Linked DNA regions of Homo sapiens. The protein of the gene in region 1 binds, or shares a complex with, the protein of each later gene. Each region holds a gene or a part of one and is shown in the gene's direction. Other genes may lie near its edges.

What was found.
Region 2: the proteins of MAPKAP1 (region 1) and MLST8 are in contact, whole or in part, in a cryo-EM structure (PDB 7PE8), measured with the Homo sapiens proteins. Residues at the interface, in NP_001006618.1 of Homo sapiens: Lys102, Cys103, Lys104, Asn105, Ile106, Gln107, Trp108, Lys109, Arg111, Asn112, Ser113, Lys121, Leu123, Phe124, Glu125, Lys126, Lys127, Ser128, Leu129, Gly137, Lys138, Gln139, Ser140, Ile141, Leu142, Val144, Arg145, Leu146; in NP_001186102.1 of Homo sapiens: Ala29, His30, Pro77, Ile78, Ile79, Ser80, Tyr81, Asp82, Gly83, Arg98, Arg110, Ile111, Trp112, Gln120, Cys121, Gln122, Arg123, Ile124, Asn139, Gln140, Ala141, Leu157, Lys158, Ile203, Glu206, Ser279, Gly280, Asp281, Gln283, Asp322.
Region 3: the proteins of MAPKAP1 (region 1) and RICTOR are in contact, whole or in part, in a cryo-EM structure (PDB 7PE7), measured with the Homo sapiens proteins. Residues at the interface, in NP_001006618.1 of Homo sapiens: Ala2, Phe3, Leu4, Asp5, Asn6, Pro7, Ile9, Ile10, Leu11, Ala12, His13, Ile14, Arg15, Gln16, Ser17, His18, Thr20, Ser21, Asp22, Asp23, Thr24, Met26, Cys27, Met29, Val30, Leu31, Ile32, Asp35, Val36, Ser84; in NP_689969.2 of Homo sapiens: Arg108, Gln137, Glu140, Thr144, Leu147, Arg148, Arg151, Lys152, Thr155, Arg182, Met183, Arg185, Ala186, Ala189, Cys192, Glu193, Leu196, Leu220, Arg222, Ile223, Glu225, Ala226, Leu227, Thr229, Thr230, His233, Asn236, Arg293, Trp295, Glu844.
Region 4: the proteins of MAPKAP1 (region 1) and KRAS are in contact, whole or in part, in a crystal structure (PDB 7LC1), measured with the Homo sapiens proteins. Residues at the interface, in NP_001006618.1 of Homo sapiens: Phe280, His287, Gly288, Phe289, Ser290, Leu291, Ile292, Gln293, Lys307, Lys310, Arg311, Arg312, Lys313, Gly314, Ser315, Phe363, Glu365, Ile369, Val374, Met377, Leu378, Ser380, His381, Tyr484 (codon at 6,209), Glu487 (codon at 6,218), Ser488 (codon at 6,221); in NP_001356715.1 of Homo sapiens: Ile21, His27, Val29, Glu31, Asp33, Pro34, Ile36, Glu37, Asp38, Ser39, Tyr40, Arg41, Leu56, Glu62, Glu63, Tyr64, Ser65, Ala66, Met67, Asp69, Gln70.

What each region holds. Positions count from the first base shown.
Region 1 is NC_000009.12:125,438,193-125,445,214, reverse strand, and holds part of MAPKAP1 (target of rapamycin complex 2 subunit MAPKAP1), read left to right. Parts: intron 1-616; coding exon 617-714; intron 715-6,202; coding exon 6,203-6,328; 3' UTR 6,329-7,022. UniProt on the Homo sapiens protein: Component of the mechanistic target of rapamycin complex 2 (mTORC2), which transduces signals from growth factors to pathways involved in proliferation, cytoskeletal organization, lipogenesis and anabolic output.
Region 2 is NC_000016.10:2,201,105-2,208,457, forward strand, and holds the start of MLST8 (target of rapamycin complex subunit LST8), read left to right. Parts: upstream 1-4,349; 5' UTR 4,350-4,408; exon of another isoform or gene 4,409-4,583; coding exon of another isoform or gene 4,584-4,771; intron 4,772-4,926; 5' UTR 4,927-4,956; coding exon of another isoform or gene 4,957-4,981; coding exon 4,982-5,110; intron 5,111-5,253; coding exon 5,254-5,305; exon of another isoform or gene 5,306-5,374; coding exon of another isoform or gene 5,375-5,392; coding exon 5,393-5,555; intron 5,556-5,930; coding exon 5,931-6,006; intron 6,007-6,088; coding exon 6,089-6,241; exon of another isoform or gene 6,242-6,920; intron 6,921-7,105; coding exon 7,106-7,230; intron 7,231-7,345; coding exon 7,346-7,353.
Region 3 is NC_000005.10:38,945,383-38,952,404, reverse strand, and holds part of RICTOR (rapamycin-insensitive companion of mTOR), read left to right. Parts: coding exon 1-209; intron 210-1,684; coding exon 1,685-2,693; intron 2,694-2,977; coding exon of another isoform or gene 2,978-3,049; intron 3,050-4,963; coding exon 4,964-5,141; intron 5,142-5,852; coding exon 5,853-5,937; intron 5,938-6,680; coding exon 6,681-6,914; exon of another isoform or gene 6,915-7,022. UniProt on the Homo sapiens protein: Component of the mechanistic target of rapamycin complex 2 (mTORC2), which transduces signals from growth factors to pathways involved in proliferation, cytoskeletal organization, lipogenesis and anabolic output.
Region 4 is NC_000012.12:25,240,908-25,247,929, reverse strand, and holds part of KRAS (GTPase KRas), read left to right. Parts: intron 1-2,534; 5' UTR 2,535-2,545; coding exon 2,546-2,656; intron 2,657-7,022. UniProt on the Homo sapiens protein: Ras proteins bind GDP/GTP and possess intrinsic GTPase activity. Plays an important role in the regulation of cell proliferation.

The sequences.
Region 1 (7,022 bases):
ATATTCAGAAGCTCTGCCCCCTGGAGTCGGTCGCTTTGTGAGGTGCCCACTTTCCATGGTGCCCCCCCCGCCCCCATCCTCCCAGGGTTGAGATGACCTGAGGCCTTTGGGAGCAGCTTCCAGCAGGGTCTAAAACTGGGATTCTCCCTCTCCAGGCAGGAGTCCTCTCCCAGCAGGAGCCCAGGCTGTGGAGCAGCCTCATAATAGTGTGGCTTTTGACCCTTCTCCTTCCTGTTGCTCATTTATCTGACTTTAAACAGTTAGTTTATTTTTAGAGTAATAATGTGGAGTTAATTAGCCTTCTCCCTTAAAAACGCCACCTTTTGCATGTAATTATCATATAGCAGCAGTTCCGTAAAGCCTTCCTAACGTGGCATTCCCCTGAATGCATTCCAGAGTGGAATGGGACCTAACTGGCTGTTGAGTCTTTAAAATTTTTTCATTGTCCATTTTATACCCAGCCTGTAATGAGAAAACGAACTACTCCTGGGAAGACTAGGTGCTGCTCAGCCTCCACTTGCTCTCGCTCGAATTGGAATGATAGGGGAGAACATATGGAGGCCCCCGCCATAGTTAACTCACCAGAACCCCTCAACACAGTTTTCTGTCTCTGCAGGTCACGCAATATTTAAACTCACGTATCTAAGCAATCACGACTATAAACACCTCTACTTTGAATCGGACGCTGCTACCGTCAATGAAATTGTGCTCAAGGTGAGTATTCCTTCTTGAACCAGAGACAGGGTAGGTGGGTCCAGCTTCTCTTCAGGCTGTTTGCGGCATGGCCGCAGCCCCACCCACTCCGCAGCTCTATAGAAGGTTCCCGGGCCCAGTTTGGCAGAGGAGGAGTGTCGCAGCTTGCCAGCCACCCAGGGGTGAGTGCCTGTGCCAGGGCCACACCAGCCCCCGCTCAGCTGCTCTGCACCTGCTTCAGTCAAAGCAGGACCCTTTTCAGTTTCCTCCCAATCCCAATAACCCTGGCTCTTCCTGTATTTGTTTATTCCTTTTATGTACTGTTTATTTTCCTGCAACCATTGTCAGGAGCTCCTTGAAGCTCCTGGAGCAGACTCTGAGGAAATTATTATTGTTTTGAAGATAATTATGCTGAAGGTGATTTTAGCAACCTGTTCTAAACATACCTAACTTTCTGCTAGACTTGTATGTCACCATACCTAAACAGTATACTCACTGAGCACCTTCCGTGTGCCTGGCCACGGCCTGGGATGCCACGGTGACAGACTCTGTCCCTGCCCCTGGAGAGCTTTTCCTCTACCAGAGGAAACAGGCATAAAACACAAAATTACAAAGAGATCGTTAGTCTCAAAGGTGTGGGTGTGTCACAGTAAACTGACTTGGGGTGGAGGTATGGAGGCAGGGAGAGCTGAACCCTGAAGGATGACTGAAAAGGCACAGATGTTGACCAGGTAAAGAGAGAGGAAGCACCACAGACAGGCAGCCTGGGAATGGGCTGAGGCAAGGCAGGCACAGGGGGATGGGGGGCTGGGGGGGCTGGGGGAGCTGGCGGGGCTGGCGGGGCTAGGCCGTGCAGGGCCTTGCAGAGTGGAGTGTGGCTGAGAGGAGCTCTGCTTGGCATGGGAGCCTCCAGGGGTCTTGCGGATTTGGGAGGTCTGGGATAGGACCTGAGATCATACGTTTCCAAGAAGCGCCAGATGCTGCTTTGGCCGCTGGTCTGGGCACCACACTCTGAGTAGCCCTGGACTAGGGGTCTCAGCCTCTCCCAAGCAGAGAATCCTTTCTTCAAGCCAAATCTTCCATAGGTTGATCAGATAGGAAAAGCAGCTGCTGTGGCAGAGCAGGGGCGAGGACCAGAGAGGGCTCCCCCACCCCTAGTTGTGTGACCCTGGCTAGTCACATCACCTTTCTGGGACTCAGTGTCCCCACCTGTAAAGTGGGGATCATAGTACCTATGCTACCCCACCCCACCAGGGCTGCTAGAGTACAAATCAGATGAGACATGGTAAACCTATGTAAGTTATCATTCAGTCTCTTCTGAAGAGTTGAAGTCATCACATAATAGCAGAAGTAGCGAAGATATGCTGAGGGACTGCACAGTGCAGGACCTGGGCCAGAGGCTCCACGTGTCCCATCACAGTGCATCTTCACAGCTCTGTGAGATCATGAGATAAAGTTGTTCCCATTTCCCAGATGAAAAGTGAGGATCAGGAATAAAGTAGCAGAGCCAGGATCATGACTCTGGTAAGTTGGCAGAACCAGAACTTGCCCCCAGATTTGACAGATTTCAGACTTGTGTTTTAATTCCCCAGATATGCATGACCTAAGAGTTGTGTGGGAGATTTCAATGAAATAGAATTGCGATCCAGGAATATATTGAGACACATTCCCCATGGCTGCAAAAGATTTTCAAAAGGAGTAGGTAGCAATTTAAAAGAGCAGCTGGAAGGACAGTTTGGAGCAGACAGAGTAGCATGATTAGCTGGATGAAAGGGAGAGGGTTCATAGACCAGCCTGATCAGAGCCCCTCCTTGGACCAAGGAGTGGGGACACGGGCCTGCCTGGGAGTGCTTGCAGCCAGCGAGCTTCGAGTTACCCACTGGAGCATCACAGACAGCACGGGCCCCTTGTGCAGAGTGTTCAGGGACCTGGCAGAGAAATATTCCATTACCCCGATAGGGGCTGGACTTTTTTTTTTTTTTTTTATAGCCAGCATTAAAATATTCAAGACTTGAGAAGGATTCTAGTAAAATTATAATCCCATGTTTGACATCAAAATAATTTTCACAACAGCAGATTGATGACAGAAACACAGGTTTATGACTTCAGTATGAGACTGTGGAAGATCAAGTGCAGAGAAATCATTTTACAGGTCCAAATGCTCCCTCGAAGCAGATGCTTCTCTGCAAAATCCGTGAGGTCTGTCACCTTCCCTAAAGTGTCTGTTTCCATATCAAAATATTTGCAGAAATATTGTGTCATGCACAAGACTCCAGAAGAGTTGTAGCATACCCTAGGCCTGATTTACTTAGAGCTAATGATCATGAGCCTGATGGAAGATGAGATAGTACTTCTCCCACCTCTGATTTTTTTTTTTTTTTTTTTTTTTTTTTGAGACAGAGTCTCACTCTGTTGCACAGGCTGGGGTGTAGTCGTGTGATCTCTGCACACTGCAACCTCCACCTCCCGGGTTCAAGTGATTCTCCTGCCTCAGCTTCCCGAGTAGCTGGGATTACAGGCACCCGCCACCAAGCCCAGCTAATTTTTTTCTATTTTTAGTAGAGAACGGGGTTTCACCATTGGCCAGGCTGGTCTCGAACTCCTGGCCTCAAGTGATCTGCCCACCTCAGCCTCCCAAAGTGCTGAGATTAAAGACATGAGCCGCCAGGCCCGGCCCCATCTCTGATTTTTATAGCAATTGGAATACTTAGTTTTATCCACCATTCCTGCAGTGTCCTGAGTGTGTCTTTGTGAGCTTTGCACCAGTACCAAGCAACGGAAGCCCAGCCCTGTGTCCGGGAGCTTGGGAGAAATGTTGTTGCCATCAGAAGCTCTTGAGGAGTCAGTTTAGACTCTAGTAATGCATGCTGTTGTTCTAGAATTCAGGAATTTTACATAAAATGAGAGCTTAGATGGAAATTGAAGGGAGGAAATAAGAGCCACAATCTGATGTCAAATAAACAATCATGAACAAAGCCTCCATCGAGCTTTTTGCGCTTGTAGAAATAGGAACGTCTCCCATTTATTGAACACCAGCTACATGCAGTACATCTAATGTCCATTATCTTGTTTAATCTTCCTGACCGCCCTCCAGAATGTAGACATTGTCCCCATTTTATAGAAGAGGAGATGGAGGCCCAAGGTCACAGAGCACACAAGGGTGGAGCCTCTACTTGAACCTGGCCCGAGAAGCTCCAGAGCCGCCCTCTTCCCATCAAGATGTCACTGAGCTAAGCCATGGGTGGTCCCTAATTCCACAGGCTTTGAGATGAATCTCAGAGGAGTTGTCGGGCTCTTCAAATCAGGTTCTTCTCGTGATTGAGTGATGGAGGCTGTGGCTTTATTGACCATGAAAACTCCCTATATTTTTATGCCTTAAGCTGTAAAATGCGTTGAAAATGAAACACTCTATAGTGCATAAAATTGTGCCAGTTTTAAGCCACAGCATATTAACCAGCTAATGGCAGAGCAAAGGGCGTTTTTATCTTTTGATTATTACATTAATCTTCCATTAACATTATCTATGTGATTATCACAAAGCACTGAAGATAATAAATTTGGGAAATAGTTGGCTTGTTAAGGATCATTTTAAAATGCTTTTGTCAAGTTATATGTGCCAAAAATACACTGAAAACACTAGGTTGGCTGAGTGTGCAAACAATATAATCCAAAGATTTCTTGTATTAAGAATGATAAAACCTCTTATTTCCATACACTGTATTGTCCCAAATCATCAACCTGGCCCTGCGGTCCTCATGATTTATTGCTCTCAGCTGGTAACTTGGCGAGGCAGCGGGCAGAGCGTGTCAGGCCTTCTGTACTCACGCACCAGCCTTTAACGCCTGCTGCTCCAACCAGCAGAGCAGAAAGTTGGGAGGGACAGTGTTGAAGCCTCGGCCATCTGAGGCGTTGCCATCTCGCGCTGCCTCCCCCGGGAGCCCTCTGGTTCCTTCTCGGAGTCAGCAGAAGCTCCTCTCCCTCTGGCACAGGACACATGGCCCTCGGAGTAGAATCAGCAGAGGCAGTGGCTGGCCTCTCTTGTCAGAAATATTCAGCCTTCTAGTCAAAACTTTTAGATACTTGCAGGTGAAGAGAAATAGCGTCTGTTCACCAAAAGCCCCAGCCAGAGGAGCAGAGGAGGTGAGAGGCTGCGGAGCAGGAAGGGGTGTTTGCCAAGCGCCTGACACCTTCTAGCTTTGTGACCTTGACTAAATGACATTATTGTCATTGGCCTTGACTTCCTCACCTGTGCATGGGGATGACAGTGGCATCTGTCTCAAGATTATTGTGAAGATTCCATGAGCGCTGAAAGGCACTCCGAGCAGTGCCAGTTGCCACCACTGATTTCACACTGCTGCTGCCGCCCATGCCCAGGCACAGGCTGTCCTCAGCACTGGGGCGTGTGCATCCCACTGTAGCACCCCTCCCTGGCTCCCACCACCTCATTTCACTAAGCCAGCCAAGCTCTCGCAGTTCCAGGGACACTCCCTTGTGGCGTGCCCCTGCTGTGCCTTGATGCATGCTGCGTCTCTCCTCCCCGTTGCGCACTCAAAAACTCCTGTGTATCCCTCAAAAGCCCGCTCACTCTTTTCCTCTGGAAGCCTTCCCTCCTCCACACCTCCCTGATACTCAGCCCCATTCCTTGATGCTCCTCTTTGCCTGCTGCAGTGCTGGTTCTGCTGCTGGACACCCACTCACCAGGCAGCAAGCTCCCCAGGGCCAGGACCAAGTCTCAGCGCTGTAGCGCTGGGGAAGCGCCTGGCGGTGCAGCTGCTACACAGAGTGGAAGATGCACATGCGACTCCGGGCAGACTCCCAGGGCTTCGTGGAAGCAGCAGCGTGCAGAAGGCCTGAGAGGAGCCCAGGAGGCAGCCCCGCCCTTCACACAGGGCTCTTTCAGCCCCCTCACAGCTCTCACCCTGACTTCCACGTGGCCTAGGCCACTTTGGCCTCCCTCTCTGAGCCTCTTTCCTTTTTGTCAAGTGAGCCCTGCCTGGCTGGGCACTCATGAGCCCTGAAGGAAGCACTGTGGTGGGAAGCTCTGCGCCTGGCTGGTGGGAGGCTGGATGGAGAGCCTGTCTTGGTTTGCTTTTCATCCCTGTGTTCTCGGCCTTCACACAGGGAAAGGCAGGCTCAGAGAGGTTATGTGCTTGTCCAGGTCACACAGCAGGTGGGAGGCATAGCCAGGCAGCCCAGGGCACAGCCTTCCGGGAGTGGCTCACGCCAGGAGGGAGCATGGGCTCCGGAACCTGAAGAGCTCGCCGCTCACTGACTGGGAAGCCTGGACTGGCCACTTGGCTTCTCCAAGCCTCTGTTTTCCCATCGTAGAGCAGCGGCTCTGGGCCCAGCCGCTGCCAGGTTGCTGTGATGACTGGACTCCTTCCACACGACAGCACCTGGCCCTGAGGCACCCGGCCCAGGTCAGGGCCTTCCCTGCCACCCCCTCCGATGCCCTGGGTGGGTAGGGAGCGGCTGGCAAGGTGACCGGGCTGTGTGCTCTTGTTTCTAGGTTAACTACATCCTGGAATCGCGAGCTAGCACTGCCCGGGCTGACTACTTTGCTCAAAAACAAAGAAAACTGAACAGACGTACGAGCTTCAGCTTCCAGAAGGAGAAGAAATCCGGGCAGCAGTGACACTGGCCTCCAGCCTCAATCTGTTCCGTAGCTCAGAGCCTGCCTGCCAGGGCCAAGTGCCCTAGAGTCCACCCGGTGTCCTGAAGTCCTCGGGGGGAGGCCAGCCCCTGGCTCACTGGCACAGGGCAGGTGGGCTCTCGGGGAAGGTGTCGGGGGCCCCCTAGGAGGGAGCGCTGGGGACATTGCCATGGGACGGAAGTCTGCTTGGCAGTGGCTTTGATAAGCGATGCTTGGGGGTCAGACCACCCCCTAGAGGAGCCACGTGCCGCCCAGCCACCTTCAATGCCTGCCACCCTGCCCGAGGATGTACAGAGCCGTGCCCACACATTTCCTTGCAACTTGATCAAATTTCTTAAAGCAAACAACAAAAATGTACATTTCTGTTTTTCCTTTTAATAAACAGGTGTACTCTTTATCATGGTTGGTATGATGGACCATTCTTTGGGGCGGAGGATTGATTATGTTACTCTCTTTAAAATCTGTTCCCATATTGAACAGGCAGATTGGAAAAGCTATGGTTCGATTTCTCAGAAGAAATGTTTAGGTCTTAGTCAATAGTTTTAACTATGCCATTTGTTTAAATGAGTGCATTTGCTTCGAGGGTAGTGTCTTACTAAAAGTTAGGAACAGAGACCTAGTGGTGTGTCCAAGGCCGTGTCACTTTCCCCTTCAGCACACCCCAGCTTCTGACCTC
Region 2 (7,353 bases), on another chromosome or scaffold:
AGTAGTTGGGATTACAGGTGCCTGGCACCTCACCCAGCTAATTTTTGTACTTTTAGTAGAGACTGGGTTTCACCATCTTGGCCAGGCTGGTCTCAAACTCCTGAACTCGTGATCCACCCGCCTTGGCCTCCCAAAGCGCTGGGATTACAGGCATGAGCCACTGCACCCGGCCAAAAAGTTTTCTTTACTTTCCTTTTTTTTTTTTTTTTTTTTTAGATGGAGTTTCACCCTGTCACCAGGCTGGAGTGCAGTGGTACAATCTCGGCTCACTGCAACCTCTGACTCCCAGGTTCAAGCGATTCTCCTGCCTCAGCCTCCCGAGTAGCTGGGACTACAGGCGTGTGCCACCATGCCCAGCTAATTTTTGTATTTTTAGTAGAGATGGGGTTTCACCATGTTGGCCAGGATGGTCTCAATCTCTTGACCTCGTGATCCACTGGCCTCGGCCTCCCAAAGTGCTGGGATTACAGGCGTGAGCCACCGCGCCTGGCCTACACTTAGCTAATTTTTTTTAAGGTTTTTGCAGAGAAGAGGTCATCTTGCCATCTTGCCCAGGTTAGCCTCAAACTCCTAGGATCAAGCGATCCTCCCACCTCGATCCCCCAAAGTGCTGGGATTACAGGTGTGAGCTACCATGCCCAGCCAAAAGAAAATGTTACTAGATATGCTGAAAACCAGGAATTTGGCAGGTAAGGCGTAGAGGGAAAAGCATCCCAGACACAGTCAAGGGCTCAAAGGGGAGAACATGGCCAGGTGCTGTGGCTCACGCCTGTAATCCTAGCACTTTGGGAGGCCGAGGCGGCAGATCACGAGATCAGGAGTTCGAAACCAGCCTGGCCAATATGGTGAAACCCCGTCTCTCCTATAAATACAAAAAGGTAGCCAGGCGTGGTGCGGGGTGCCTGTAATCTCAGCTACTTGGGAGGAGTCTGAGGCAGGAGAATTGCTTGAACCCAGGAGGCAGAGGTTGCAGTGAGCCGAGATTGCGCCATTGCACTCCATCCCCGTCAGCAGTGTGAGATTCCGTCTGAAAAACAAAACAAAAGAAAACAAAAGAGGAGAACATGTCTCCTTTGGCCAGAGTACAGGACCCATGGAGTATTAGTCCATTTTCATACTGCAATAAAGAACACCTGAGACTGGATAATTTATAAAGGAAAGAGGTGTAGTTGACTCACAGTTCAGCATGGCTGGGGAGGCCTCAGGAAAGTTACAATCATGGCGGAAGGCGAAGCGGAAGCAAGGCACCTTCTCCGCAAGGCGGCAGGAAGGAGAAGTGGAGCAAAGGAGGAGGAACCCCTTATAAAACCATCAGATCTCTTGAGATCTCACTCACTATCATGAGAACGGCATGGGGGAACCTGCCCTCATGATTCAGTTACCTCCACCTGGTCTCTCCTTTGACACATGGGGATTATGGGGATTACAATTCAAGACGAGATTTGGGTGGGGACACAAAGCCTAATGGTATCACATGGAGAGGAGATGGAAGCCACAGGATGGGCCAGGGCCAGGGCCAGGCCCAGGAGTCTGGAGAGGGACAGGGACCCCTGAGGGCTTCTAATGGGGTGATCAAGTCATTCCTAGGTTTTGCTGGGGGTTTTTGTTTTGTTTTGAGAAAAGGTCTTGCTCTGTCACCCAGCCTGGAGTGCAGTGGCTCAACCACAGCTTACTGCAGCCTCGAGTTCCTGGCCTCGAGTGATCCTTCCACCTCAGCCTCCCAAAGCTGGGACCACAGGCACGCACCACCATTCCTGACTAATTTTTAAATTTTTTGTAGAGATGGGGTATCACTATATTGTTCAGGATGGTCTTGAACTTCTGGGCTCGAGTGATCCTCCTGCCTCAGCCTTCGAAAGTGCTGGGATTACAGGCATGAATCACTGTGCTGGGCTCAGACTGAGGTTTTTAAAAGGCCACTCTGGCCGGGCGCGATGGCTCACGCCTGTAAACCTAGCACTTTGAGAAGCTGAGGTGGGTGGGTCACTTGAGGTTAGGAATTCAAGACCAGCCTGACCAACATGGAGAAACCCTGTCTCTACTAAAAATACAAAATTAGCTGGGATGGTGGTGCATGCCTGTAATCCCAGCTACTCAGGAGACTGAGGAACCCAGGAGGTGGAGGTTGCAGCGAGTCGAGATCGCGCCATTGCACTCCAGCCTGGGCAACAAGAGTGAAAATCCGTCTCAAAAATAAATAAATAAATAAATAAATAAATAAATAAATAAATAAAAGGCCATTCTGCACTGTGGTGGACAGTTTGGAAGGGGGCCAGAGTGGCTGGGGCAAGGAAGGAGGCTTTTATGGGGGATGGGGGTGGTGAGCTAGAACCAGGGCAGTGGAAAGGACAGGAAGGTATATCACAGGTAAAATCGGTGGCTGAAGGGAAGGGAAGGGTGAGGGAGGGGAGGTGTCGGATCTTGCCCAGCTGTAATACAAGGTGGGCACTGCCCACAGAAGGGGAGCTACTCAGGGATGGGTTGTCTTGGCCCTGGAATATGGTGGACCCTGCGGGGCATTCAAGGGACAGTGTCTTAACAGGGAGCTGAGGCCATCAGAGCTGGAGACAGGGTGGAAGGGGCCCAGGACAGGGACAGCATTGGAAGCTCCAGAGCTAGCAGTCATCAGCCCCCTGGTATCTCGTGGGGTGCACAGAGTGAATGCTGAAGGGCCTGAGTCCTTGCGGGCAGGCAGGGAAAGAGACTAAATGTCGGGGACAGGAGCTAGGAGAAGGCAGCCTTTCAGGCATGGTGCCGTCAACCATGGCTCAGATGCGTCAAGAAGTGGGAGGGGGCCGGGCGCAGTGGCTCACGCCTGTAATCCCAGCACTTTGGGAGGCTGAGGGGGGCGGATCACGAGGTCACGAGATCAAGACCATCCACCATCCTGGCCAACATGGTGAAAAGTCTGTCTCTACTAAAAATAGAAAAATTAACTGGGTGTGGTGGCATGCACCTGTAATCCCAGCTACCCGGGAGGCTGAGGCAGGAGAATAGCTTGAACCCGGGAGGTGGAGATTGTGGAGAGCCGAGATCGCACCACTGCACTCCAGCCTGGCAACAAAGCGAGACTCCGTCTCAATAAAAAAAAAAAAAAAAAGAAAGAAGAAGTGGGAAGAGGCCGGGCGCAGTGGCTCACGCCTGTAATCCCAGCACTTTGGGAGGCTGAGGTAGGCGGATCACTTGAGGTCAGGAGTTTGAGACCAGCCTTGCGAACATGGTGAAATCCCGTCTCCACTAAAAATACAAAAATCAGCCAGGTGTGGTGGTGCGTGCCTGTAATCCCAGCTACTCGGGAGGCTGAGGCAGGAAAATCGCTTGAACCTGGGAGGCAGAGGTTTTGCAGTGAGTCGAGATTGCACCACTGCACTCCAGCCTGGGCGAGAAAGCGAGACTCTGTCTCGAGAGAAAAAAAAAAAAAAGGTGGGAAGAAGGAAAAGTATCCACTGGATTTAGCAAAGTGAGATTGTCAGTGACCTTGAGGAATTTCCACTGGAGAGCTAGAGAGCTGGGGGTAAAAGGCAGATGACTGGGGTTGCGGAATGAGTGGGAGGTGAGGACGTGGAACTAGAAAAATGGTGAGGACCGCTCTTTGAAGAAGATAATTTGGGATTGTTTTATGGTGTTTTTTTAAAGGCTAACCGGCAGGAAGGAGAGGAGGTGAAGGTATAGGAAGGAAGGCTCCATGGGAACTATGGCCTGGTCAAGGGACAAGATGCACCCCCTCTGCGGCCAGAGGAAGGGGTGCAGCCAGGTCTGTAAGAGCAGCAGGAAAAAACCATGCGACAGCCTGTCTCAAGGGTGAGGGCACCGGCGTGGAGCTCACAGAGCTGGAATGAGGGCCTGTGGTTTTGAGGGGGACCCTGGGCTCAGTGGGATGTCCTGAGGGTCAGGCTGGGGCTGGGGTGCCAGATCTAGCAAGTAAAACTACAGGATACCCAATAAAATTTTTTTAGCATAAGTATTTCCCATGCAATGTCCTGGATATACTTACACTAAAAAAAAAATTATTCGTTACTTGTCTGAATTCAAGTCCTGTAATTTTCAGCCAATCCTAGCCCAGCGTGGCGCAGTAGTGGGTCAGGGAGGGCACCGGAACAGCGCGACCCGACAGCCCGGGAAACGGACAGCCGTGTCAGAAGGGCAGGTGCCAGTGGGCAGGAGGCCGGAGAGAAAGCCGCAGCTTCCTTCCACCTCGCGCCGGGCCCGCGGCCGCGCACGGGGACCGCTCCGAGTTCCTCCCGGCGGGAACCCCCCGCCCCAGAACTTTGGTCTCGTCCCACCCACCCCCGCCCGCGCCATGGTCTCGCCCTAGGGAGCCATCGATAACTCTACGCTCGGCCTCGATCGACTCGCTCCGGCTCCCCTCGCCGTCCTGGACACGGCGGAGTGCGGAGCCGCCCGTAAGGTACGGAGGCCGCGAGCCAGGGGCCGGGAACCGGCTGCTGGGTGGCTGGGAGAGCACGGCCAGGGGAAGCCGGCCAGCAGGACGGAGCAAGGGCGGTCACCGGAGGAAAGGGGAGCTCGGGGGTCCAGCCAGACTGCGCCCTTTCCCATCAGGGCCTGCCGCTGGCCTGCTACGCATGCGCAGCCGCAGCGCTCGGCTTTCCCCGGCCCATCCGCCGCCTTGCGCACGCGCAGCCCGCCCCTGCGGCAGAGTGGCGCCCGCGCGTGACTCCCCCCTGCCGGCTGCGGAGGTGGGGGGGGGACGGCGCCCCCGCCGTGTGCGTGGGGCGGGGATGGAGCACGCGCCCTGGAGCCCCGGAGCCAGGTATCACGCGTGTGACGCGTGTCCCTGAACCTACCTGCGCTTCTTGTCCCAACTCTAAAATGGGAATGATAAGCGCCATTCGGCAGCGCCTTGTGGGTCTATAATCTACTTAGCACAGAGAGTGTCTTCTAAGTACTTCACATCCTTCTCTGCAGATGCTCTGACCTTTGACCCCTGCCGTTCAGCTCTAGGGCCCGTGCAGGCCACACCATGAACACCTCCCCAGGCACGGTGGGCAGTGACCCGGTCATCCTGGCCACTGCAGGCTACGACCACACCGTGCGCTTCTGGCAGGCCCACAGCGGCATCTGCACCCGGACGGTGCAGCACCAGGACTCCGTATCCTCCACCCGGGGCGGGCAGGGCGGCGCTGGGGGGATGCCTCGTGTGGGGACCACAGCCTGTGTGAAGGCCAGATGGTGGAGGCCTGGGGGGCCCTGGCCTCAGGGCTACCTTCCCGTCATCCTCCTTAACAGTCCCAGCAGGTGAATGCCTTGGAGGTCACACCGGACCGCAGCATGATTGCTGCTGCAGGTATCTGTGATCCTTGATCTCTAAACTCCTGAGCTCTGGTGGGTCGACCTCAGCACAGCCAAGCTTCAGTTCAGCCTGTGTCCCTAGGTTACCAGCACATCCGCATGTATGATCTCAACTCCAATAACCCTAACCCCATCATCAGCTACGACGGCGTCAACAAGAACATCGCGTCTGTGGGCTTCCACGAAGACGGCCGCTGGATGTACACGGGCGGCGAGGACTGCACAGCCAGGATCTGGGACCTCAGGTGCGGTGGGGAGGGGGCGTGCTGCCCGGGGCTGGGGTGGGCTGCTCTGGGAGACCGTTTTAGGTTGGGTTCTCTTCAAGCAGAGGCTGAGACAGGGAGCTTCCTGTGGGCGACTTACTGAGAGAAGTGAGGACAGGAGGAGAGTGAATTGCATCAGAGCGCGAGTCCTGCCTTGAGCCCGGAGCCAGCTTGTTATTCCCCTTCCACCAGCCACTGGCTTAGGCTCCCTGCTGGAGCAGAGGGCCCTGCGTCCCAAGTATTTCCCAAGAGGCAGGTCCTTCAGCAGAGGGAGGGGAGGAATGGCCAGGCCGAGGCCATCTGGGTAGGGCACCAACAAGCCCAGATGGACAGCATGTGCCCCGGCCCGGCCCGCAGGTCCCGGAACCTGCAGTGCCAGCGGATCTTCCAGGTGAACGCACCCATTAACTGCGTGTGCCTGCACCCCAACCAGGTGAGGGGTGCTCATGGGGCCAGGCACCCTGGGACTTTGGAGGGCTGGGCTTGGGCCCTGCCTCACCACCCCTGCACCCCAGGCAGAGCTCATCGTGGGTGACCAGAGCGGGGCTATCCACATCTGGGACTTGAAAACAGACCACAACGAGCAGCTGATCCCTGAGCCCGAGGTCTCCATCACGTCCGCCCACATCGATCCCGACGCCAGCTACATGGCAGCTGTCAATAGCACCGTGAGTCCTGGTGGCAGGTGCTGGGTGCGGGCAGCTTGGCACTCAGCCCTCAGCCTCTGCAGGTGGGCTTATTCCTGGATGTCCCTTAGCGGCCCCCTCCTGCTTTCCCCATCCCGGGCACTAACACCCACCTTGCCAGCAAAGCCAGAAGCCTTAGTGTCGCTCCCGATGGCTTAGTCCTGTCTGCAGGTCGGTCACTCCGCTTTCTGGAGTCTCTCCCAAGTCGATCCACTTCCCTCTTTTCACTCTGTTGCCTCCTGGTCCCAGTCACCCTTGTTTCTGGTGACGGCTGACACACTCTCTGAGGCTTCCTTTCCCCCTCCCTGACCTCCCCTGGCCCCTGACACGTTCTCTCTTGGATGCTTCTAGTGGTGCCTGGTCAGTATCAGCCAGGTGGCGTCATTCCCCTGAGGAGACCCGGGGCTGCTGGCCTCGCCCGTAGGCTGCTGTGGCGTGGCCCCTGCTCTTCTCTCCAGCCTCATTTTTTTTCATTAACTTCATTTAATCCCAGTGCATCACTTGTACCTCTTGCCCCCGGATTTCCCTTCTGCTGGCCTTTGTCATGCTGTCTCTCTAGCTGGTGCCCTTCTCCTGTCTACTTCCGTTGGCCATCGGCATCCTCCAGGAAGGAGAATTTGAGTCCTTGGCCAGGCGTGGCCTCCTGTTCTTGGCTTGCCAGGTGTGGCCCTTGCTTGGGGCCAGGCTTCCCAGGTGCCTTCTGCAGGCAGGACCAGAGGGGCCTGCCTGCCCCTCACCCGGGGTCCCCATGCACAGTTGGCCCCCAGTGTTGGCCCCCAGGGCATCCTTCCCTGTGTCTCAGACCTGAGGCCTTGGGCCCTCCGTGACGGTCCTCCTGACCTCTAGGGAAACTGCTATGTCTGGAATCTGACGGGGGGCATTGGTGACGAGGTGACCCAGCTCATCCCCAAGACTAAGATCCCTGCCCACACGCGCTACGCCCTGCAGTGTCGCTTCAGCCCCGACTCCACGTGCGTGCAGGGCCTGCTGGCCCGGGAGGGGACCTGCCTGGGCTGGGGGCTGGAGAGGGGAGGGGCTGCTGGATGGAGTGGCTGCTGCTGGACACGCCCCATGCCCACCCACTAGGCTCCTCG
Region 3 (7,022 bases), on another chromosome or scaffold:
GCTCATAGCTAAAACCAAACAAGGCTGTGATATTCTAAAATGTCACAACTGGGATGCTGTGAGGCATAGTCGCAAACATCTGTGGCCAGTGGTTCCAGATGATGTGGAACAACTCTGTAATGAACTTTCATCTATCCCAAGCACTCTAAGTTTGAACTCGGAGTCAACCAGCTCTAGACATAATAGTGAAAGTGAATCTGTGCCATCGAGTGAGTATCCTGACAGGTTCATATAAAGTTAGCCAATGTTAACATTTATATTTGAATTTTAGAATTTAAATGTATTTGTTACATTTGTAATTTGCTTTTGTCTAAGATAATTATTTGGCAATAATAGCCTCTTGGAGAATGTGTATATTTTCATAACAAAGAGTATAATCACCAGCTTACATTTTTCTCTCTCCTTATATTCTAAGTAGCTTTTGAGGATTCCTACAAAGTTATGTAATAAGCCATGTGCCAGAAGAACCAGTCCTCCTTTTTTTGACAGAAAAGAAACAAATATAACAAGTATTTATTTGTCTACCTTCTTTATTTAATCTTTTTACTCATTTTTCAGATACTGAGATTGTTGAGCCAGAATATATTTTTAACTGATATTATATTCACATCTTCATTTTTGAGAGAAGCACTAAATTTTAAAATAGTGAAATTGTTAATAGAGTAACAAAAATAGTTATATATAAAATGATTTGTGGTTTTAAGTCCTGTGCTAAGTGGTGTTAGGTGTACAAAATTTAAGGCATGGTTCTTCCTTTTAAGAAGATAGTGTCAGCTTTATCAGACTGTGTATTTCACCAAATCTGAGATGCCATGAATTATGAAATATGCCAATATTTTATGTACCACAAAAGAAGAAGAAAGAAGAAGTGCTGCCTATTAAACTAGGACATACTACAAGATGCATATTGATTTTAGAATCAGATTCTGTGTGAAAATAGAAGGGATTAAATGTGAAAAGTGTGCATCTTAGAATTGACAAAATATAGAAATGGTAATGCAGTATGCAAATTCACTTAGGATTTTCTTTTACCTTCTTTGAAAATATATTTGAAGTATTTGTAATTATTCAACAGAAAAGTTAATAAAAGAAAAATCGTATAGATGTCATTAGGCACTCACTTGGGTTGCGTCTTCTAGTAGAATTGGGCACTAAATTTAATGAGTTTCTTAGTATCTAAGGTAAAATGAGAAATAAACATAATTTAAACATGAATTTATAATGTTACCACTTGGTTCTCTGTAAGTATATTTTAAGATTGGGAATTCATTTCTTACAAGGTGAATTTCTCCTGCTTATAGTAATTTAAAGAAGAACCACTAGGAATCTGTAGTAATTGAGTAAGCATCCATGGCCAAGTCTCCTTTTTCCCTTTAATTTCATCCTGAATATTTGGAGAATCAAAAGAAACTTCATGTAACCTGTGCCATAGTGGGTCTTATAATAATTTTTCTTTGGAAATAACAGGAGATTCTCATAAATTACATAATTTTACATTTTATTCAAGTCCAAACTCTGGGTTTCAAGAAAGATATTTTCAAGTAGCTGAATGGTTTAACCGTTTATTTTTAAATTTTTTCCTCTAGATGACTAAAAAAAAATTTCCTGAAATGTGATGTCACTAATAGTTATCATGAATTTGTCATTTTATATGTGTTTTTATTAATTGATCCTTCAATCATAGGTATGTTCATATTGGAGGATGACCGGTTTGGCAGCAGCTCTACTAGCACATTTTTCCTTGATATCAATGAAGATACAGAGCCAACATTTTATGACCGATCTGGACCCATAAAGGATAAAAATTCATTCCCTTTCTTTGCTTCTAGTAAACTTGTGAAGAATCGTATCTTAAATTCGCTTACTTTGCCTAACAAAAAACATCGTAGTAGCAGTGATCCAAAAGGAGGGAAATTATCATCTGAAAGTAAGACAAGCAACAGGCGAATCAGAACACTTACGGAGCCCAGTGTTGATTTTAATCATAGTGATGATTTTACACCCATATCCACTGTACAGAAAACATTACAATTAGAGACTTCATTTATGGGGAATAAGCACATTGAAGACACTGGTAGTACACCAAGCATTGGAGAAAATGACTTAAAATTCACCAAGAATTTTGGTACAGAGAATCACAGAGAAAATACAAGCCGAGAGAGGTTAGTAGTAGAAAGTTCAACGAGCTCACATATGAAGATACGTAGCCAAAGTTTCAATACAGACACTACAACAAGTGGCATAAGTTCAATGAGCTCAAGTCCTTCACGAGAGACAGTAGGTGTAGATGCTACAACTATGGACACAGACTGTGGAAGCATGAGTACTGTGGTAAGTACTAAAACTATTAAGACAAGCCACTATTTGACGCCACAGTCTAACCATCTGTCTCTCTCCAAATCAAATTCGGTGTCCCTGGTGCCTCCAGGTTCTTCTCATACGCTTCCTAGAAGAGCACAGTCCCTTAAAGCACCCTCTATTGCTACAATTAAAAGTCTAGCAGATTGTAACTTTAGTTACACAAGTTCTAGAGATGCTTTTGGCTATGCTACACTGAAAAGACTACAGCAACAAAGAATGCATCCATCCTTATCTCACTCTGAAGCTTTGGCATCTCCAGCAAAAGATGTGCTATTTACTGATACCATCACCATGAAGGCCAACAGTTTTGAGTCCAGATTAACACCAAGCAGGTAAGCAAATATATGTTTAGAAGTGACCAATAATGGTTGCATTTTAACAAATTTAAATACAAAATGTTAGCCAGGTTTTACACTATGTGAGCCTCATCACTGACCTATTATAATTGTTTACTATGGTAGGCTATAAGCTCCTTGTTACCCGATATGACTTGAAATGGATTCTTGCAGCTGCGAGGGGGGAAGAAAATCCTATAGGCCCTGAAAATAAACATACATGCTTTGCAAAGGACATACAAGTCACAAGCTTTTTTTTATTTATTTCTCGCTTCTGCAAGGATCGATTTTAAAAAGAAGCATGTCGGGGGAATCAGGAGCTTAAGACCTACAATAACAAACAACCTTTTCAGGTAGGTCAATTTAAGGCTCCAAAAGTTGACCTCTTTATTATTTTTTTAAAAAGATAAATGAAAATTTCAGTGAAATTATTTTCACTTTAAGTAGCTGTGATTATTAAATAGGAACCTAATAAACACTAAATGAAATACTTGGTCCTCATGACTCAGCAGGGATTTCTATACCATATTTAGATTATATCAAGCTAGTCAAAGTGAACAGTTTAGATTTTACTTTTAAAAGATACACAGTATTTGCTGCAAAAAAATTTTGTACCTATAATTTTTGTGGTTGGACCAAATGCTTCTAAACAACTTTCCTTAGTTTTAAATTATTCATTTACATTTATTTAAGTGGATTAATATATGTCAGGTACTTATATGTCAACAATATATGTTAGAATACTTTAGCACATATTAAGCACTCAATAAAAGTTAGCTATTTATCATCATCATTGGTAGTTATTTAATGTAATCCATCTAGCCCTTACATTATTCTTAATAACATTAAGCAGTTTTGTTTCAATAATGCTTAACACATTTAATAGAGGGTTTCTTGGTAGCAGACAATGAATTGTGTACCCTTACAGGATTTAAGAAATTATGCAGCAATGTCTCATCTATCTGGAACTCACTAGCTTTGGCAACCTTGTCCAGGACAAAGCCAGGGAAAGTTCTCAACAGCTCACTGTTACAAATCTATGCAGTAAAGTTCATGAATTTTGAACATTCCTAAGCCTCAGTTACCTCATCTGGTGGAGATTGCACTAGATCAGTGGTTGTAAACTTTTGTATTGTTGTTTTTTAAGCAGAGAAATTATTTTTTCACATAAAGATTTCTGTGGAAACCCAATAGGTAGAATAGATAGAAAGGGACCTATACTGGTTGAAATAGGAATTGGGAAGGGGAATAATCCAATAATTGTTTTCCTCCCACTCCAGTAATCCTTGAAGAGTTTTATGGGAACCAAAGAAATGTAACAGATTACAGTTTGAAAGAGTGTTTTTTGGGTGGAAATTAGGAGCATGGTTTTTGCTATGTTAATAGCTACTATTTAGAAAGCATTTCTTTTGTGTGTTTTACAAAATAATTATTTGATTTAATATTAGGCTGCATTCGTACATTTTAAAGACTTGGTTTTCCAAACAAAAATATCTTCATATAAATGTATATAAATGTGGAACCTTGCATAGTGCCTTGTATATATACAGCAGATACCAAGTAAATATTTTAGCATGTCTGTTGCATAAGTAAGAATCTGTATGAGAAACATGTATCTTATGGAAATATCAGTGTATCATATTTGTTATGGAATCTCTAGTAGTAAGGAGTACATTGTGGAAATATCAGTACATTGTGGAAATATCAGTGCTTTTTACAAGGATATCTCGTCATAAATGACCATTTTGCTCTTGTGTCTGTCTTGTGTGCTACATAAATCTTATGTTGATAATGAAGGCATTAAGGTAATTATCACACAAATAATGATATGTAATTGATCTCATTTTTTATAAATATAATATTAAATAGAGTTGATACACATATCCTTAGTTACATAAATGCCAAATCTAGTAGTCTCAAGTGATTATGAAGATAGTCCTTGGACCATGCTCTGACTACTGAGGTCAGTTTCTTTTTTTACTTCTAGATGTTGAAAGTTATTCTAATTGCCCACCTTTTCACCTTTACCTGAGAGACCATAACAGTTGTTTTTGGTAACAGTCAACATTACTGGTGACCTTTTACATAGCGGTCTATAACAGCTAATATTTTAAAGTGTTTATGTGTTGCCAGTAAACAAGATGACACTGCTTAATACATGACTAGCTACTTGTCTTTTATGAAGGTAGGAATATATGTTATTTCTTCATATGATTAAAATTACAGATCAAGAAACTAATGCAAGTGGTTTCTTTATGGTTTTATAGGTTCATGAAAGCCTTAAGTTATGCATCATTAGATAAAGAAGATTTATTGAGTCCTATTAATCAAAATACCCTGCAACGATCTTCCTCAGTGCGGTCCATGGTGTCCAGTGCCACATATGGGGGTTCAGATGATTACATTGGTCTTGCTCTCCCGGTGGATATAAATGATATATTCCAGGTATTATCATACATTTTATTGTTTTCCTATGAGTTGGTTTCCTATTTTTTCATATGCTGTAACTGCTTACTAGAAATCATAATTTAGGGTGGGCACCAGTTTGGGGCAGCATGATTTTTAAGACCGTTTTGTTTAAAGAAACTTTAAGATTAAAATTATTTTGCCCTTTTCAACTACTCTGTACTCTTTTATTTAGTCCTTAGAACATTATCCTTCCCTCTCTTCCCATATTAAATCAGTATCTCATTTGATTTCTTTATCCATATATTCTCTGTAGAAATTTATGAAATTTCTAACTTGTTTTTTAGTCACATTTAACTTATACCTCATTTTTAAATCCTCATTCCTATTTATCCCATAAAAGGTAGCCAGCCATATGTGGTACCCAGTAATATAAGGTGACCCTAATCCCAGGAGATACCCACAGATCTCTAGATGGTATATAGTACTAAAGAACACATTTTCTTAGAAGTTGAAAGACATTTTAGATAAACGCTAAAATAATTAATGTCCATTTAGTCACTAATAATATAATAAGGACTTTTTGGGTTATTTTGTTAAGTTTTGGTAGTTGAACCTTCAGTAAACTTGATTATAGGTTCATATGCTATGGTAATTCTATTTTAATTTTATTTTGTTTAATTTTGCTAATTTTCATAAAGTGGGCTTATTTTTATAGCAGGACTTACCATGGTTTATATCTTTTTTTAGGTAAAGGATATTCCCTATTTTCAGACAAAAAACATACCACCACATGATGATCGAGGTGCAAGAGCATTTGCCCATGATGCAGGAGGTAATGCATTGTGCATTGTACTTGTGAGATGCCTCTTTATATTAAAAAGAAAACTCTTAGTTCTTTCTAGTAGGATAACACTAAAAATTTAGGAAGACTCACTTTTGGATCAACTTTAAAATTATACCAAAACAATTGTTAAAGTCAGCTTAAAATTAAACCACATTTTTGTGTATGTGTGAGGGACTTAACAGTGTTTTCAGTGAAGTACTCAACCTTTCAAGGAAATAGAAACCAAATTAGTTGTTTCTGTTTTTTAAAAGTAGCACATGAACAATGTATAACACTAATCCTCATAGATCCAGGAAATAGCTGTTTGTTTAGAGTAAGGAGAAAGAAATGTACTTATAAAATACACGGTCTTTGTTTTGAACTGTTATATTTTAATATGTAAATATAAGCCACAGGTTTTATAGCTTTATATTCTTAATGACTTTTTAAACAAATGCCTCTTTATACTTAGAATTATTACATATCTTTAGGCAAATATTGACGATAATTGAAATGATGTATTATATAATCTCAATTTTCCATTTTGTATTTAAAACACTATATATTAAAATAATAAACATCTGCTGGCTTTCCTTATTTTTATAACTTAAAGCAAATTATTCTTTTTTTCTTTCCAGTTAGATTTTGAGTCATAAAATGTGCTTAAGCTTTCTTTAAAATTTCACATAATTTAAGGTACCTTGAAAAGTATTATCTTTATTGGATTATGTTTTATATTTACTTATGCACAGGTCTTCCATCTGGAACTGGAGGTCTTGTAAAAAATTCTTTTCACTTGCTACGACAGCAGATGAGTCTTACGGAAATAATGAATTCAATCCATTCAGATGCCTCTCTGTTTTTAGAAAGTACAGAAGACACTGGACTACAGGAACATACAGATGATAACTGCCTTTATTGTGTCTGTATTGAAATTCTGGGTTTCCAGCCCAGCAACCAACTGAGTGCAATATGTAGTCATTCAGGTAAGTGATCACGTCCCACCTTCAGAAAAACCTAGTGATGACTAAAGTTCTCTGGTTTACTTTTCCAAATTTCTTTTTGGTATTCTAATTCAGAGTTTCCCAGCTGGT
Region 4 (7,022 bases), on another chromosome or scaffold:
AGCCCATTACTTGGTAACATGAATAAAATATTTTATGAAAAATAACTATTTTCCAAAACAAAACCAAAACTTAGAAAAGTGGTATTGTTTCACACTTCAGTAAATCTCTTTAATGATGTGGCTTAATAGAAGATATGGATTCTTATATCTGCATCTGCATTCAATCTATTATGATCACACATCTGGAAAACTTGTGAAAGAATGGGAGTTAAAAGGGTAAAGGACATCTTAATGTTATTATGAAAACAGTTTTGACCTCTTGCACACCAGAAAAGTCTTAGTAACCTGAGGGGTTCCTAGACCACATTTTGAGAACTGTTTTAGGCTATGCAAACTGGTTGGGGGGAGGTTGGGGTAGGCAGAGAGCTAGAAGATACATTTTAGTGTAATTCTCCTCATCTATTCCTAATTGCTTTGGCCTACATTTGAAATAAAGCGTGGAGGCAAACGGGATAAGATACATGTTTGTAGTGGTTGTTAACTTCACCCTAGACAAGCAGCCAATAAGTCTAGGTAGAGCAGAGTAAGGCGGGGAACTATGCCGTGACCGTGTGTGATACAATTTTTCTAGCCTGTGGTGCTTTTTGCGGCAGGGCTTAGGAGTAAGGTTAGTATGTTATCATTTGGGAAACCAAATTATTATTTTGGGTCTTCAGTCAATTATGATGCTGTGTATATTTAGTGTTTATCTACAATATATGCACATTCATTAATTTGGAGCTACTCATCCTATAATAAATAGTTGTGCATTTACTCCCATTTTTTTCTGCATTTCTCTCCTTATTTATAATTATGTGTTACATGAGGGAAAGGAGGTGAAATTAAACATTCATATTATTTCAAAAAATTTGAAACAACTAACTAAAAAATATGTTTTATTTTCTGTATGGTGTTTGTTATACAATCTGTCAATATTCATGCACCTCTTGGGAGACAGTGTATGAAAAGCAAAGAGTAACAGTCACATGGATTACTGATTACTGAGATATATTCACTTGCATCTTTTTTTTTTTTTGAGACGGAGTGGCTCTGTCGCCCAGGCTGGAGTGCAGTGGCGTGATCTCGGCTCACTGCAAGCTCCGCCTCCTGGGTTCACGCCATTCTTCTGCCTCAGCCTCCCAAGTAGCTGGGACTACAGGCGCCCGCCACCACGCCCGGCTAATTTTTTTATATTTTTAGTAGAGACGGGGTTTCACCGGGTTAGCCAGGATGGTCTTGATCTCCTGACCTCGTGATCCACCCTCCTCGGCCTCCCAAAGTGCTAGGATTATAGGCGTGAGCCACCGTGCCCGGCTCACTTGCATCTCTTAACAGCTGTTTTCTTACTAAAAACAGTGTTTATCTCTAATCTTTTTGTTTGTTTGTTTGTTTTGAGATGGAGTCTTACTCCGTCACCCAATCTGGAGTGCAGTGGCGTGATCTGGGCTCACTGCAACCTCTGCCTCCCGGGTTCAAGTGATTCTCCTTCCTCAGCCTCCCCAGTAGCTAGGACTACAGGAGAGCGCCACCACGCCTGATTAATTTTTGTATTTTTAGTAGAGAGAGGGTTTCACCATATTGGCCAGGCTGGTCTTGAACTCCTGGCCTCAGGTGATCCACCCGCCTTGGCCTCTGAAAGTGCTGGGATTACAGGCATGAGCCGCCGCACCCGGCTTTCTAATCTTTATCTTTTTTTGTGCAGCGGTGATACAGGATTATGTATTGTACTGAACAGTTAATTCGGAGTTCTCTTGGTTTTTAGCTTTATTTTCCCCAGAGATTTTTTTTTTTTTTTTTTTTTTTGAGACGGAGTCTTGCTCTATCGCCAGGCTGGAGTGCAGTGGCGCCATCTCGGCTCATTGCAACCTCGGACTCCTATTTTCCCCAGAGATATTTCACACATTAAAATGTCGTCAAATATTGTTCTTCTTTGCCTCAGTGTTTAAATTTTTATTTCCCCATGACACAATCCAGCTTTATTTGACACTCATTCTCTCAACTCTCATCTGATTCTTACTGTTAATATTTATCCAAGAGAACTACTGCCATGATGCTTTAAAAGTTTTTCTGTAGCTGTTGCATATTGACTTCTAACACTTAGAGGTGGGGGTCCACTAGGAAAACTGTAACAATAAGAGTGGAGATAGCTGTCAGCAACTTTTGTGAGGGTGTGCTACAGGGTGTAGAGCACTGTGAAGTCTCTACATGAGTGAAGTCATGATATGATCCTTTGAGAGCCTTTAGCCGCCGCAGAACAGCAGTCTGGCTATTTAGATAGAACAACTTGATTTTAAGATAAAAGAACTGTCTATGTAGCATTTATGCATTTTTCTTAAGCGTCGATGGAGGAGTTTGTAAATGAAGTACAGTTCATTACGATACACGTCTGCAGTCAACTGGAATTTTCATGATTGAATTTTGTAAGGTATTTTGAAATAATTTTTCATATAAAGGTGAGTTTGTATTAAAAGGTACTGGTGGAGTATTTGATAGTGTATTAACCTTATGTGTGACATGTTCTAATATAGTCACATTTTCATTATTTTTATTATAAGGCCTGCTGAAAATGACTGAATATAAACTTGTGGTAGTTGGAGCTGGTGGCGTAGGCAAGAGTGCCTTGACGATACAGCTAATTCAGAATCATTTTGTGGACGAATATGATCCAACAATAGAGGTAAATCTTGTTTTAATATGCATATTACTGGTGCAGGACCATTCTTTGATACAGATAAAGGTTTCTCTGACCATTTTCATGAGTACTTATTACAAGATAATTATGCTGAAAGTTAAGTTATCTGAAATGTACCTTGGGTTTCAAGTTATATGTAACCATTAATATGGGAACTTTACTTTCCTTGGGAGTATGTCAGGGTCCATGATGTTCACTCTCTGTGCATTTTGATTGGAAGTGTATTTCAGAGTTTCGTGAGAGGGTAGAAATTTGTATCCTATCTGGACCTAAAAGACAATCTTTTTATTGTAACTTTTATTTTTATGGGTTTCTTGGTATTGTGACATCATATGTAAAGGTTAGATTTAATTGTACTAGTGAAATATAATTGTTTGATGGTTGATTTTTTTAAACTTCATCAGCAGTATTTTCCTATCTTCTTCTCAACATTAGAGAACCTACAACTACCGGATAAATTTTACAAAATGAATTATTTGCCTAAGGTGTGGTTTATATAAAGGTACTATTACCAACTTTACCTTTGCTTTGTTGTCATTTTTAAATTTACTCAAGGAAATACTAGGATTTAAAAAAAAATTCCTTGAGTAAATTTAAATTGTTATCATGTTTTTGAGGATTATTTTCAGATTTTTTTAGTTTAATGAAAATTTACCAAAGTAAAGACCAGCAGCAGAATGATAAGTAAAGACCTGTAAGACACCTTGAAGGTCATGGAGTAGAACTTCCATCCCAAGCAGATGAGGATTTATTTAATCTCAAAGACCTCCAGGAGGGGACATTCCCCAACTGTCCTTGTTAACTCATTTTCAGAACATATTTATTAGCATATTTTACATGTAATTTGGATCTTCATGTTAAATTTAACATCAGTGGAGATGGAAAATAAGCATATCGCCTTGTCTTTGAAATAGCCCTATATTGTTAGATTGTTTCTTAGGCTTCTTTACCCTGGGTTAAGCAGTCCTAATACTTTAGCATTTATTCTACATCTAGTGTACTAATTTAAAAAAATCAGTTCTGAAAAATTTCTAAGAACTTTCTTCAAGTTCCAAGCTGTGAAATCTAGAACAGGTCAAAGTGCCTTATTAACGTACTGTACTGTGTAGTGTCTTGAAGAGACACTTTGCGCTGAGGCAAGTTCTGAGGGCATTGGGTGGCCTTGGGAAGATATTTATGCAGTTTAGAACCTGGAGAATTGATTAGATAACTAATCATAAGGAAACGTCACATATTTTTGGTACTATAAAAAAGTGGAGAAATAATGCCTATTTGCAAAGATTTGATTTAAACATAGAAACAACTTTATTTGGCTTCCAATTTTAAGAATTTACAGCAGTAAAGGGGAACAGTCTAATTGAAGTAGACTGCCTATGCAATAGTCTCTGTATATTTACTTTTGACAAGTTAATTCAATGTGTACTATAGTTTTGTTTCTTTGAAGAGGTTTGAATAGTGCACCCATTTTAATCTGTATTGCAAATTCAGGGTTACTTGGCAGACTCTACTATTTAAATCAGATGTAAAAGGAAGTTTTAATATAATTCACTTTATGCCTGAAAGTTTTCCTGGGATTTTGGAAGGTGATTTTACTGGAAATGCTGTCTGTCTTCCCTGAAAATCTGAGAAATTCCATTACACTTTGTTTCCAATCAGAGGTCATGAGTGCTATATGAGTATATACAGCATGACGTCATGAATGTGATAAAGTGGGTTAGGAAACCTTTTGCTAATGATTGTTAAAATGCAATATAAATGTTGAAGAAATAAAGCTAACAGTTAAGCCTTTATTTGGGCGGAAGGCTGAAAAAGTTTATAAACTTAAACCTATAACTCTGCTTATGATTTCTGCCAAACCAGAAGACTTGACTCTGGGAAGCATTGGTTACCTGTGAACTTTGAAACTGACGGTCCCTGACGTAGTTTAGTCACCTGGGAAAAGGTATCTGAGATTATCTCTTATCTCCCAAGTTACAGTGAGTCTCTGAGGGAACTGACACATTACATTAAGTTCTTGGTGTAGTTAAACTGTAAGAAAGGCAGGAGAACTTAGTAGTTAAATAGTTGGTTAAATGGAAATGCTGACTCCATGTTATTGTAAAAAGTTAAAAATTTAGGAGGATATGGGGATTTCACTGCCATTGCAGGTTTTGATTGGTATTTACCAATCCGTGTGGGTCAGAGAGAAAATTAGAAAGGATATGACTGCACATTTTGGAATTATTAGCAGTTTTTCTACATTTAAAATGGAAATAAATTTTTTAAAAATTTAAATCAAGTAATACTGTATTTTTTGGTGATTTAGATTTTTCAAAATTTACACTAAGAGATAGTAAGGAGGGTGGCTATTGTTTCTTTCAATAATGTCTCTGAGAGGTTGTAACTCATCTAAGGATACGTAGCTAATAAGTGGTAGGATTTCAATTTAAATTCTCTGAGACCAAGTTAAGTAGAATTTGCACTGTACTCTTGTATAACTTTTTAAAACTGAAAATTAGCTATCTTTCAAATTAAGAAAATATTTACTAATGGAGACTAATTCAGATTTGTAAGTATACCAAAATTTGAACTTAGCCTGCTATCTAATGGCAACTTAGTGGCAGAGGTATGATGTAAAATCATTCAGGTATGACACATAGATGGAGTATGTTTGTATTCGAGGCTGTGCACATAATCACCTTTACTTGTATTGTGAAGTATATATTGTTATCTTTTATGAAGCCCACTAAAGAGATAATGAAATACCTCGTTATTAGGGCAAGATTATTGAAAACTCAAAATAGCCCCCAAACACAATACTTGGCTAGAAATATATACCTTTATAGTTCAGAGATCATTTATTATCAAAACCCTGAAGTTTTTTTTCTAAGGTAAAATTTGGTGGAAGAGGAAAAGTCTCGTTTTAAAAAAATGTAGGTAGTTACAGAGATCAGAATGATTAGTTGATCACTTACCAAATATATATTAAGTATCTACTGTATATAATATGCTAGTAAGAATAAATATAGCAGGAAGTATTTTTTCCCAGGCTCTAATTGTTTGACATCAGCATGCTTTTATTGTGGCACTTATAATTCAGTTCAAGTATTATGCCCCTCTTTGATGGAACAGTTTCCTATTCAGTAAGGAAGACCAGATTAATCATTGGATTGGTTTGTTTCATCTTTAGTGTTCTGAGCTGTAGAGTATTTATTTACCAAGGTTTATTTTAATTTTTATTTTATTTTTATTTTTCCATGTTCATTGTAGAATTCATTTTACCTACGAATGAAGTATGTAGATTATAGAGAGAAAATTTGTAAAATTAAACTGATACTGAAGACTGGTATAAGAAAAGCCTTATGTAATTTGTAAGCTGCTATTCTTCTGAGTTTATACATATATCTTTAGTAATCAATGAGGGATGGTTGGGTGACTGCCCTCCAGGGGACATTTGGCAACATCTGGAGATGTTTTTGGTTGCCACAACTTGGGGAGAGAGTACTGCTACTGGCATCTATTGAGTAGATGCTATTACTTTAAATGGCAAAGCTGCAGTTACCTTTGCACCAACCTAATATTAAACTTCCTGCAGTGCACGGGAAAGCCCCCACAACAGGGTTATCTGACCCCAAACCTCAATGGTGTTAAGATCCAAACCTTGATATGTTAACCTGTAGCTTTAAACATCCTTTAAATTGTCAAATTCATGTCCCTGACATAAGGTTTATGTTAGATTTTCAAGTATAACAAAGATTTAAACTTTAACTTTTGTACGTTAATGATATGTTAGCTTACTCCAGTCTTCTATTAAAACATTCTGTTTTTAAAATCAGAGACACACAGCAATTTTATAAATCATTTCTCTTCAAGGCTGTGAAGCTCTCCCCACTTTTGTGAGTGCCCTCTACTGGTCAAATTATTTGCTTTATAACAAGTAACAGTGAAATCCTAAGTTTGTGTAGTTTCGCTGTTTAAATTATGGGTGGCATCAATTTATAAATATATTCGTTTTATTTAAAAGTCTTATATGATTGATTTCGTATCATTTTTGCTCTCTGCTAATATTAATATAAAGATTACTGTCTGTATTAGTTAGGCCTAACTAAGTAGGTGAGTATAGTGAACTAAGAAAGGAAACGAGGCAGTATATAAGAAAATAGGGTGGTTCAGTTGTTAACACTTACTGAGCTTACTTTGTTGAAGGGACTAAAAGGCAGCAGTGTGGCTCTCTGAGCTTCTTTGCATGCACTCAGGAGCTGCTTAATGGAGTCCAAGGCTTGGTGGTGTGTTACAGGGGATGATAGGAGGGTCCTATTCAGAAGTGGCAAATTGTGAAAGTGCACATTTTGTAGAGTTTTATAGGACTGTA